Regions from separate parts of the Homo sapiens genome. Here region 1 is linked to region 2. Evidence: fine-mapped expression QTL. A gene starts in region 2. The other region holds a variant in brackets. All regions are shown on one strand. Distances are from middle to middle.

What was found.
Region 1: its variant is fine-mapped to the expression of CPNE4 in stomach (GTEx, PIP above 0.99).

Annotation. Positions count from the first base shown.
Region 1 is chr3:132,283,444-132,288,824 of GRCh38, forward strand. No RefSeq gene overlaps it. Among named protein-coding and RNA genes, the nearest start is that of ACP3, 31 kb to the right of the region's middle. The variant T/TAA (reference allele first, on the strand shown) is at 2,328.
Region 2 is chr3:132,032,405-132,037,785 of GRCh38, forward strand. It overlaps CPNE4 (copine 4), which reads right to left and starts at 2,610. Exons shown (of 16, transcript NM_130808.3): 1 at 2,163-2,610. RefSeq lists an enhancer at 2,190-2,359 and a silencer at 2,735-2,834.

The DNA of each region.
Region 1 (5,381 bases), 250 kb after region 2:
TACTTCCATCTCCACCACTCCACAGGCACTGTTCCCATCAGACTCAACACGACCTCATCTTGCCAAATCCAGTGGTCACTTCTCTGTCTCTGTCTTTCTTCAGCAAACACTCAGGGCTTTCAAAAAAGCTGACCACTTCCTCATTGAAATACTCTCTCCACCAAGCTTCTGCAACACTACACTCTCCTGTTTCCCTTCTAAGTTCTGCCTTCATGTTTTCAGGCCCCTCCTCCTCTGTTTCAGCTCTAAATACCAGAGGACCAGAGAGCTGTGTTCCTGTTCCTTTTCTTTGTAATTTTTAAGTCATGTTACCAAACCAAACCAGGGTCTGCTCACTCAGTGCAGTAAAGCCAAACATCTACACCAAGGTTTTGCAGCAGGGGGGAAAAGAAGGCATTTATCTGCAGGGCACCAAGCAAGGAGAATCAGGCAGCTCACACTGTAAGAGCCAACCTTCGCAATAGCTTACAAGCAAGAGTTTTTAAAAGCAGGGATAAATTTCAGGGAAGTAGAAGTTACAGGCAGAATTTTAAGGCATATGTGGAGGTTATATATTGATTTGGCCTAAAAAGACAGTATATATTGAAGCAGGAACTTACAGGTCATTGGTGGATTCGAGGATTTTCTGATTCGCAATTGGTTAAGGAAGGGAAACTTTGTCTAAAAACTTGGGATCAGCAGAAAGGAATGTTAGGTCTGGCCCATGGGTATGACGTCCTTTAGGCTCCTAAGGAAGAAGTTTAGAAAAAAGAACGGCAGTCAGAGTTCAGTTCTCAATCGCCCCTTATCTGAGGTCTACATGCCAGTGGATCCATTTGGCTGGGGTCTGTGTTTCTGAAAAGTAGCTCAGGGACATATGTTGAGATGTTGTCTTTAGTTTCTATAGGGAACCAAACATCTCAGGACTCTAACTACCTTGGCTATTGTTTTCAGCTACTATTATCTTCTTGCTTATCAAGTTGCTTATTTACTTCTCAGGGCTAGTGAGGCGGCTAGTTCACTGCCTAGAATTTCCCCGGAAGGAACTCAATATTTTCCTCTATTTCCATGCTTGGCAAGGGGGGGAGGGGGGCCCTAAGAGGGATCCCTGCTCCGTTTCTGTCATGTGACCTTAGACGAGCAACTTAATCTTTCTGAGCCTTAATTTCCTCAACTATAAAATGAGAGTTAATAATAGTACCTTTCTCATATAATTATATCAAAGTCAAAATAAACATGTAGAGATGAATCCATAAATTTAATATTTTATTTGGGAAGAAAGAATTGCAATTTGGGCCATACATACAGACCTGGTGGTCTTCGGGTATGTCCGAATAGCAAAGAACGGCTTAGCAGTTTTGAAACGAGAAAAGTTCCCTTATTCCCCTCGCAGGGCGTGTGACGGGGGTGTGGCGCGCTTCTTCAGTGCCCCGCTGCTCACACCTCTAGGGGGAGCATACAGACAGACGGTCGGGTTGTGAGGCTCCGACCCCATAGCAGTGTCTAGGGGTTAATGTTTACAGCTGAAGCCCCAGTGGGCCTGTGTTACAGGGTGCTCTTTCAGTTTAGCCGTCCGTAGGCGGCTTGTGCTAGTCAGCTCAATCAGACACCCTGCCTTATCGCAGGGACAGAGGGCTTTCTGTATCATGGGGTTTCTTGCCCTGGTGTACCAGAAGAATCAGATCACACGTAGGCTTGGAGAATGAGTGCAAGGTTTATTGAGTGGAAGTAGCTCTCAGTAGATGGGGGAGCCAGAAGGGAGATGGAATGGAAGGTTGCTTTCCCCTGGAGCCAGGCCGCCCAGCAGCGGGGCTTACCTTATACCGCCCTGGCCAAAGTCCGTGTCCTTCCGCGGGTTGATGGCCTGCCGCCCTGCTGGCCTACCGGCGTCTGTCAGTATGTTCTTAGGCCAGTGCGTTCCTCTCAACGGCTAGGTGCTTGTGTCTTTTTCCACTGCTGTGATCCTCTCAATGTCCAGCCGCTGGTGTGTCTGCCCACTAGGGTCTCAGGGTTTTTATAGGCACAGGATGGGGGGATGGGGGCATGGTGGGCCAGGGTGGTCTTGGGAAATGTAACATTTGGACCTGAAAACAAATGCCTGTCCTCACCTAGGTCCGTGGGCACAGGCCTGGGGGTGGAGCCCTCGCCAGGGACCCGCCCTTCTCCGCCCAGCACTTCCCTGCCCTATTCCGATATCAGTTTTATAAAAAAGGAGAAATGTTATGTATTCTTCTTTGAGAAAGTTCATTGGCATAAGAAAGAATTTAGGGAGTCAGAAAGCTTCAACTGGTGAATGGTGGCTGTGGGCACAATTAGTGCTAGCCTTTGCAGCACGTTATCTCAGAAGA[T/TAA]GAGATAAAACTGGTTTCAGGTTACAACAAGCAGTTTGGGCTTGCAGAGAATTACATTCTTTCAGCAATGTTGTACCCTGCGTGCTTGTTCCCCCTGGCTTCTCAACTCTGTTTTAGTTGTGAGTGACAAGAATGACCCAATTCTTATGATCAACTTTCATGATTGTTATGAGAATTAAACGAATTAACACCTGTAAAGCATTTGAAACAGAACCAGCCAGGTAATGAGTCAGTGCTTCTCAAATTTTAAGGCATATTAGAATCACTTGTGGCTTTTAAAAATCTTGATATCCAGCCCATATACCATAGCAATTAAATTAAAATCTCCAAAAAATTCTCTAATAACTAATTAGGCACAGGGTTTTATTGTTGTTATTTTGTTTTGAGACAGGCTCTTGCCCTATCAGCCAGGCTGGAGTGCAGTGGCATTGTCAGAGGCCTTTGAACCAGAGCAACTCCATCTTGAAAAGGGGCTGGGTAAAATAAGGCTGAGACCTACTGGGCTGCGTTCCCAGGAGATTAGGCATTCTAAGTCACAGGATCAGATAAAAGGTTGGCACAAAGTACAGGTCACAAAGACATGTACATTAATTATATGCACTAACTATAATGCATTATCATGCTAAAAGATATGCCCAGCAGTGCCATGACAGTCTATAAATGCCATGGCAATTTCAAGAAGTTACCCTATATGGTCTAAAAAGGGGAGGAATTGTCAGTTCTAGGAATTGCCCACCCCTTTTCTGGAAAACTCATGAATAATTCGCCCCTCGTTTAGCATATAATCAATAAACATAAAAATCGGCAACCAGCAGCCCTTGGGGCTGCTGTGCCTATGGAGTAGCCATTCTTTTGCTTCTTTACTTTCTCAATAAACTTGTTTTCACTTTATGGATATGCCTCAAATTCTTGCGTGAGATCCAAGAACAGCACAATCATGGCTCACTGCAGCCATCTTGGGTTCAAGCCATCCTCCCACCTCAGCCTCCTGAGTAGCTGGGACTATAGATAGGGGAAAGTCACCACACCCAGCTACCTTTGTTTATTTTTTGTAGAGATGGGGCTTCCACCATGTTGCCCAGGCTGATCTTGAACTTCTGGGCTGAAGCTATCCTCACACCTCAGCCTTCCTAAGTGCTAACATTACAGGCATGAGCTACTGCACGCAGCCTATTTTTTTAATTCTAAGGTAACTTCAGTGTGAGGCTAAGGTTGAGAACCAGGATAGTAAGAGATATAAAAGTATGTCTTAAATGAATAAGATAAACCTGTGTCTCTCTGAAGCTTCATCATCTGTGTCTGACACTTTTGTTGCCATTCACCCAATTTCTGAAGCCCAATGCCTAGGAGTGCCCCTTGATTCTCCCGTTAGCCTTAAATAATGAGGACCAGAAAAATTAAGTATAGAGTTTATAGGAGTCCAAAGCTTGAGGATGGCCACATGGGGGCATAGATTCAAGTTGCCATAAATATACACCCTGATTAGTAGCAGTTACTAGTTGAAGTTTTAAGGAGTAAAAGAAGAGGCAGTTCCTAAGTTGTTTACCAAGAATTTACATTAAAATAACATAAGCTAATGATTGGCTATATATTGTTCTTTGTATCACAAAAACAGGAAGAAAATGGATGTAGCAGCTAGTCAAGAACAAAATACCTTTAAACAATTGTCCCAGACATAGCGGAGAAGGTGACTGAAGTCCCATACTCATGTTTCTCTGAGCCTGATAAATTCTGCATATCTCACATAGCTCAGACTGCTCTGAGCTATTTTCCTTTTTTCCTTTTCTCACCCTTCTCCCTCACATCTCATATCCAATACTAGTATGTATTTTTCTCGTCCATTCACTTCTTTTGACTTCCCCAAATCCACCCTGATCCAAGCTACAATCATCTGTTTCCTGGGCCACTACAGTAGCCTCCTGGCTGTTCTCATTCCCTTTTTTGCTTCTCCATAATTCATTCTTCACAAGCAGCCACAGAATTTTTAATGCATATCACTCCCCTGATTAGAACTCCCCATTTGGCTTCCCATTGCATTTTGAATAAATCCAAACTCCTCACCATGGCCTCAACAAGATCCTGGGTGATTCAACACCTTCCTACCTCTCTGACCTTGTCTGCTCCTGCCCTTTCCCATTTTTACAATTCTTCAGTCACTCTGGCCTTTTTTCTTTCCTCTGAGACCACAATCTCACTCCCTGCCTCAGGGTTTTTACACTTCCTGGGATGCTCTGATGGCTCTCCCCTTTCCTGCATTCAAGTCTCACCTCAAATGTCACCTCATAGAAACCCTCTCTGACCACTCATCTAAAGTATCCCCCACCTCAAGTCACTCACAGTCATGTCACCTTATTTTATTGTCTTCACTGTAGTTCTCACTGTTACAGGACCAATGGGTTTGTATGTCCGCTGTGCAGTATCAGACTGATAGGCTGAGACAACAGGGTTTGCAGCAGAGAAAGAGTTTAATGATTGCAGAGTGGTCAAGTGAAAAGATAGGAGGAGACTCAAATCCATCTCCCCAAGATGTTCTGCGCTGGGGTTTTTAAGGGGATCATGGAGGGCAAGGGCCTAGAAAATTGAGGTCATTAATTGGTCAGGTAAGCGTAATGAAATAATCAGGATGTGGAAATTGCATTCTTTGTTAAGTCAGCTTTTCATGGGGCCTCAGTGAGGTCCCTCAGACCAGTTGACATCAATAGTTTCACTGGTATGCAGGACCTGAAAGAATATCTCAAATGGAAAACAACATTTCACAATGTTTAAGTTGTTATCTACAGAACAGTTAAGTGGTGACAGGTCTGTGTGATTCTGGGGTAACAGGCAGTGAATAACTCTTAGTAGGCAGGTCAGAGAGTAAGCTGACCTCATGATTAATGGTGAATGTGCTGCGATCTTGCTTTATTTTTATTTCTCCCCCTCTTTTCTACTCTGATTAACTTTCTGAAGTCTATAGGGATGGTTTCATCATTATCTGAAATTATCCTGTTTATTTATTTGGTTACTCGTTTACTATCTCTCTCTGCTAAAATATATTTCATTTTAAAAAGAAAC
Region 2 (5,381 bases):
TCTCACACAATCATACAAAACTGCCCAGGATTAAACATCTACTATTGCTATAGACCAATATATCCTTTTATGTAATGTTAATGGAAAAGTCACCTCATTCTGATGTGTTTTGAGTTTGATCCTCTAAAACCATAAGAATCTTCCCATGAGAGATAGTTGAGAAAATGTTGGCCTTTATTAGTATGCACTATTAACACAGGTGTTCTGACTGCATTTTCCAACCCTCCCTCTATTTTATGCACCTCTCTACATGTGAGAACTTTTGACTAACTCTGAGTCCTGACCTGCCAGAGTGACTTTGTCAGTCTCTCTTTAAAAATGGGCAGGTGAATGAGTTCAGCCTAGAAGCAGCAGCTCGGTAAGGGAAATGAAAATATCAGAAGTTATCTAATCACAGCCATAGCCATGCTGAGCTTCATCTTATCTTTTGGTTAATAAAAAGAAATGGGACCTTCCGAAACTTGAAGGGCATCAAATTAAGTTTTTGCTTGCCTCTGGCTTTTTGGGGGATATGCTATGTGGTTTAACCAGCATATACTAACTACAAAAATTGACATGGATTCAAAACACCTGTGTCATAGGACGGTGGGTGTTTGTTTTTTTGTTTTGTTATAAAGCAGAAAATAAAACACAAAGGCCTTTGAGAACAGGGATTGTTAAGGGAATAGAAGAGTATGGAGAAAAGAACACTTTATTTGAAGTTAAGGTAATTGTGTACGCCTGTGTATGTGTGCGCGCGGGGGCGCGCGAATGAGCAGGATTTAGTTTCATTTAAAGATAACATATTAAAGTATCTTGGACAGCTCAAAAGTGCTGTTCAGGAAACAAAACCAAGTGAGCCAAGAAAAACCAGAACAGTGCTTTTAAAATCCCTGGCAAAGCAGCAAGAGGATGAAGAGTTGGTTTTGCATAGTTTTGAACACAGGGTGTAAAGGTGCTGAGGCATCTTTTCCCACAAGTCACTGAAATCCTGTGAGAGTGTGTGAGTGTGTGTGTGTGTCTGTGTGTGTGTGTGTGTGTGTGTAGAGGGAGAGGTTCTCAGATGTCTCTCTTGCAAAGCTTCCCAGAGCACTCTCGCTTCCCTAGCCCCCTCCCGCCTCACTCTGCTCACCTTTCCCCCCTCCACTTCCCAACCACCCACATCAAGCCCTTCATAGATTTGCGCCCCTTGGATCATCTCTGCCGCCTGTGACTTTCCCTGGAGCCTAGCAGGTTCTGGGGCTGAAAGGCAATCCGCCAAGGCGCCCTGGGGCGCCGTCAGATTTGGAACATAGAATGGGAAATAGGGCCTTAAAGCCCACCTACTCCAAGATGAAGGAGGAGCATTTTTCATCAGGGTTTAGCCTGCTCCTCACCGGATGGTAATCAGCACTCGCTTGACTTGGCGTGGACCACCTCCTAATTATCTCCATTGGATTCAGCCCTAACAGTTCTCGTGTGTCTGTGATACCACGCGGGGTCGTGATCTCCTTACTCAGCTGTGGCTTGGTTTCAGTGGTCCCTCCAGTCCCGTCCCCTGTCCCCGTCCCCCTTTCCTTCTGGCTACTTTATTCCATAGAGGAAGAAGCGCTGAAGGACTACGTTGAATCAAAGCACTTGCAAGCCTATTCATTAGTTTTTAACACTGAGAAGAGGCAACTAAAATATTATTAGAACCTCATTGTAAGAAGTGTGGGGGAGGAGGTTGAGAGGCTGAATCCAACCGCAGCCAGGTCAAGCCATTGGAAGGGACTACAATGTCCCACAGCTTTCTCACTGTCAGAGAGGAAGCTGCAACTTCAGCCAGAACTCCCTTCCCCTCCCCTTCCCCGATTTTGAAAACCGTACCCCTTCTTCCGCCTTCGGGACTTCCCTGACCTATCCCTCACCCGTGCCATGCTGTCCCCTCCCCTCCGCGGTCTTTCTCCCCAACTCCATTCGCCCCACCCCACCTGGGCGAGTTGGGTGGATGTCAGAAGGCGAGAGGTAGGGGATGGAAGTCCCTTCAGATTAAAGACGTTGCTTGCTGCTGCTTTTTAAAACAACAACAGCAATGACAAACGTGCAAAGGTGAGCGAGAACCAGTGCATCTCAAAAGTTGGTCTTGCTACGCAGCAGCTCCAACAGACTTTGCAATCACAGCGCCCCAGGAACACAGGAATGAAGAGTTGGCATTTACTTACCTGGGTGTGCCAATCTCGAAGAGTGGAGAGAGAATTCAGCCCGGGACGAGGTCTGTCCCGCCCCCAGGATGCAAAATCCGGCTTTGAAGTGGAGGTGGTTGGTGTGGTAGTTTTGTACTGATGTAAGGGGCGTCGCACCTCCTTCCCCTCTCGTCCTCCGAGGTCAGTTTAGCAACAGCGGCTGGGAAAGGTGCTGAGAGCAGAGTTCGGTCTCTCCGGAAACCCTGACTCCATTCTCGGTGATGGGGGTGGGGGAAGAGGGTGAAAATGTTGGAGATGTCAGGTCGGCTCTCAGTTAACTCGGAGAGTAAAGAGGAGGGTACTGAGAAAAGAGGGAGGGAGTGGAGTGGAGCGAGGGAGGAAGGAAAGGAGGGTGGCAGAAAGAGAAGGGGACGAGCGGGTGGCGGGGAGATGGCAGCTTCTCACAGAGAGATTTCCACCTTCTGACGAATCCCATGCACCCAGCAACCCGGCAAGAGACTGGTTCCGAAACCTCCGCGCGAGCGCCCCCTGGGGGTTGCTGACGGAGACGAGCATTGCCCCGGGAACCCGAGCTCAGGCCCCGCCCAGGCCTTGGCGGCGGCGCTCTCCGTGGTCCTGCCGCGCCCGCAGTCTGGGCTTTCTGCTCAGCTTTGTCGCTCAACTGAGCTCCTGGGGACACTTGATTTAGATCTCCAAGTGCTTGGTCTCCATCTCCACTCTAGGGTGGAGCGGTCGTATCGCGGCGCGGGTGTGGGGGGAATGGGAGTTACACTTTTTGGCACTCACCAAAGAAAACTTCTTAGATGGGTGCTTAACTGTCACCAAAAATGGTAAAGGTGTTGCTAATCTCTGGATCCTTCGTGTCTACAAAACTGTCTGGCGTATGGCAGGAGCCTGGAAATTATTTTTAGTAAGTAATGCATGAGTAAATTAATGGACAAAGAGTATTTTCTTCATCTCATGATGAGTTTCTGAATACATCTACCTCACAAATAAGATAAAGAAATACTTAGGGAGTACTTATGCTTAAAGATAGATATAAATATGCTGTCTTATGTAAGGGGTGACCACTTCCACATGTTTTAAAGCACTTTAGAGAGAAAGTATGGCCTTCCTATTTCAAACTTATTCAAATTCAGACAAATGAACTTATTCAAATACAGGGCATTGTTTCTGATTATGTCTGCTACCATAGACAAACTAGACAACTAAATTCTCTCTGCACATTGGTATTGTCAGACTCACAAATTGGACTTTGGAATTAATGAAGTAAAGTGAATGACGGTCTCTTTCTGACATTGGGATGGTATAGAGTGTGTTACATCTAACGTGGAGGGGAGATGGAAGGTCTTCCTTCTCACCCTATTAAGGGGCTATCTAACAAAGCCTCTCCAACCTGAAGGTTGGAGGAGATATTAGCCAAAATCTTTTCACTAACCATGAAGTTCTCAATTTCAAAGTCCAGAAAAGGAGAACCAATAGGGTAAGGAGGAAGACCCCCTCTTAATTGTTCTATAGAAGTAGACAGAAATATCTTTGATAAACAAAGGGACAACCTTCTGACAGAACACAAATAACATTTTTCTTCTTTCAGTCACCTCTAAAGCCTTTCTGAAATAGGATAACACTAAACATGGACCCTGGAAAGGACCTCAGGGAGCTTCTCTGTACACTGAAACTACCACAGAAATCCTTGGATTTGCTTTGATTGCAAAAACTTGGGTCACATGGCTATGCATAAGTCAATCGTTGTGACCTTTGGATATGGAATTACACTAATGGGCCAGGACTTCCACAATGTCTAGGAGCATGTGATGTCTTCTATAGCACTCCTGGAGCCAGGATGGAGCCCCACCTGATCTACACACATTGCGAGTGAGACACAGGGACAATTCTCCAAGGGATATTCAGGGTCCTCCTACCAGGAAAGGGGAGACGGATGCTAAGCAGGCAAAACCAGTGTATGACTACTAAATATGAAAATGTTAAGTCCAAAAACATTACTTCCAGGTTTTGTTAAGAGGTAGCCTCAGAGATAAACTCAAAATTTGAATTGGATTGAACTTGCAAAGATGAAGGAAGAAGAAGGAAAAGTCATTGTGCATTTCCTTGCATGTTAATTGTATCCTCTAAAATTTAATTTCTATGAAGGCAAGGGATATGTCTGTTTTGTCGTCTTGTTCATAATTATAACCCCAATGCCTAGAAAGGTGTCTACCACCTTCTACATTTATAAAATTAAAAATAATATAAATACCTTAGGGACCATTCAACATAAACTTCTTATATTACAGGTGAGAGAAAAGGAATTAAGATGTGCTGAGCATGTACTATTTCCAGGCAATCTGTTAGGCACTCTACTTACCATCCCATTTAATTTTTACAACAACCTGCCCAAGAAAGTTTTACTATATCTACAAAAATAAATCCAGGGTGTGGGCGGTTGAAATGACCAGACCAGGGAACACAACTAGTTAATGGGAGGATAGGGGTTGTTCATTGAAGCAGTCTCTAAAGGGGCAGCTAGAATAAGTGAACACATGGACCATAGAAAAGAAGTTATAGAGTCAATGCTCATAGGGAAAAAGAAAAACAACATAGTTATCTTTGGCCCTACATGTTAAAAGCATAGATACACAAACTAAACACAATGCCACAACTTGTGACAAATATGGTTTCCTTTGCCAGCAGGCTTCAGCTCCGTAATTAGAAACAAACAGTTGCCTGCATGCCAGTGCGCAGAAAACGTGCAGCTTTATGCCAGAAACTTGGAATTTTTTTCTGAAGGCATGACACTGAAGGTAAATTCAAAGAAGCTTTTTACAGGGCACATAAAGCAGAATTTACTTCCACCTCTTATATGAAATCAACAGCTCATCTGTACAAATGAAGATTTGTAACCAGCTAATAATCCATGTTTTCAATCACTGCCCCCACAGCAAGTTGCCCGCCAGCCACAGTCCCCTCAACAATTGTAACATCAAAATCCCCTTGTCTCTATCACTCACCTCCTCCCAGCTCTCCTTTTAATGGATTCTGAGCTGCTGGGTTCTACAGCCATGGTCAAATTTATCTAAAGCCAAGCCACAAAGTCACTGTGGCCCTGGTGTTCCCAAGTTGCAAAGGAAGCTTCAGCTCTGGGTAGATTCACTCGCCGGGTTTCTGTTTGATAAGATAAGAGGAGGCATCCGCTCAGTGTCTTATGCCAATATGAAAGGCATCTCACCCATCAGTGTG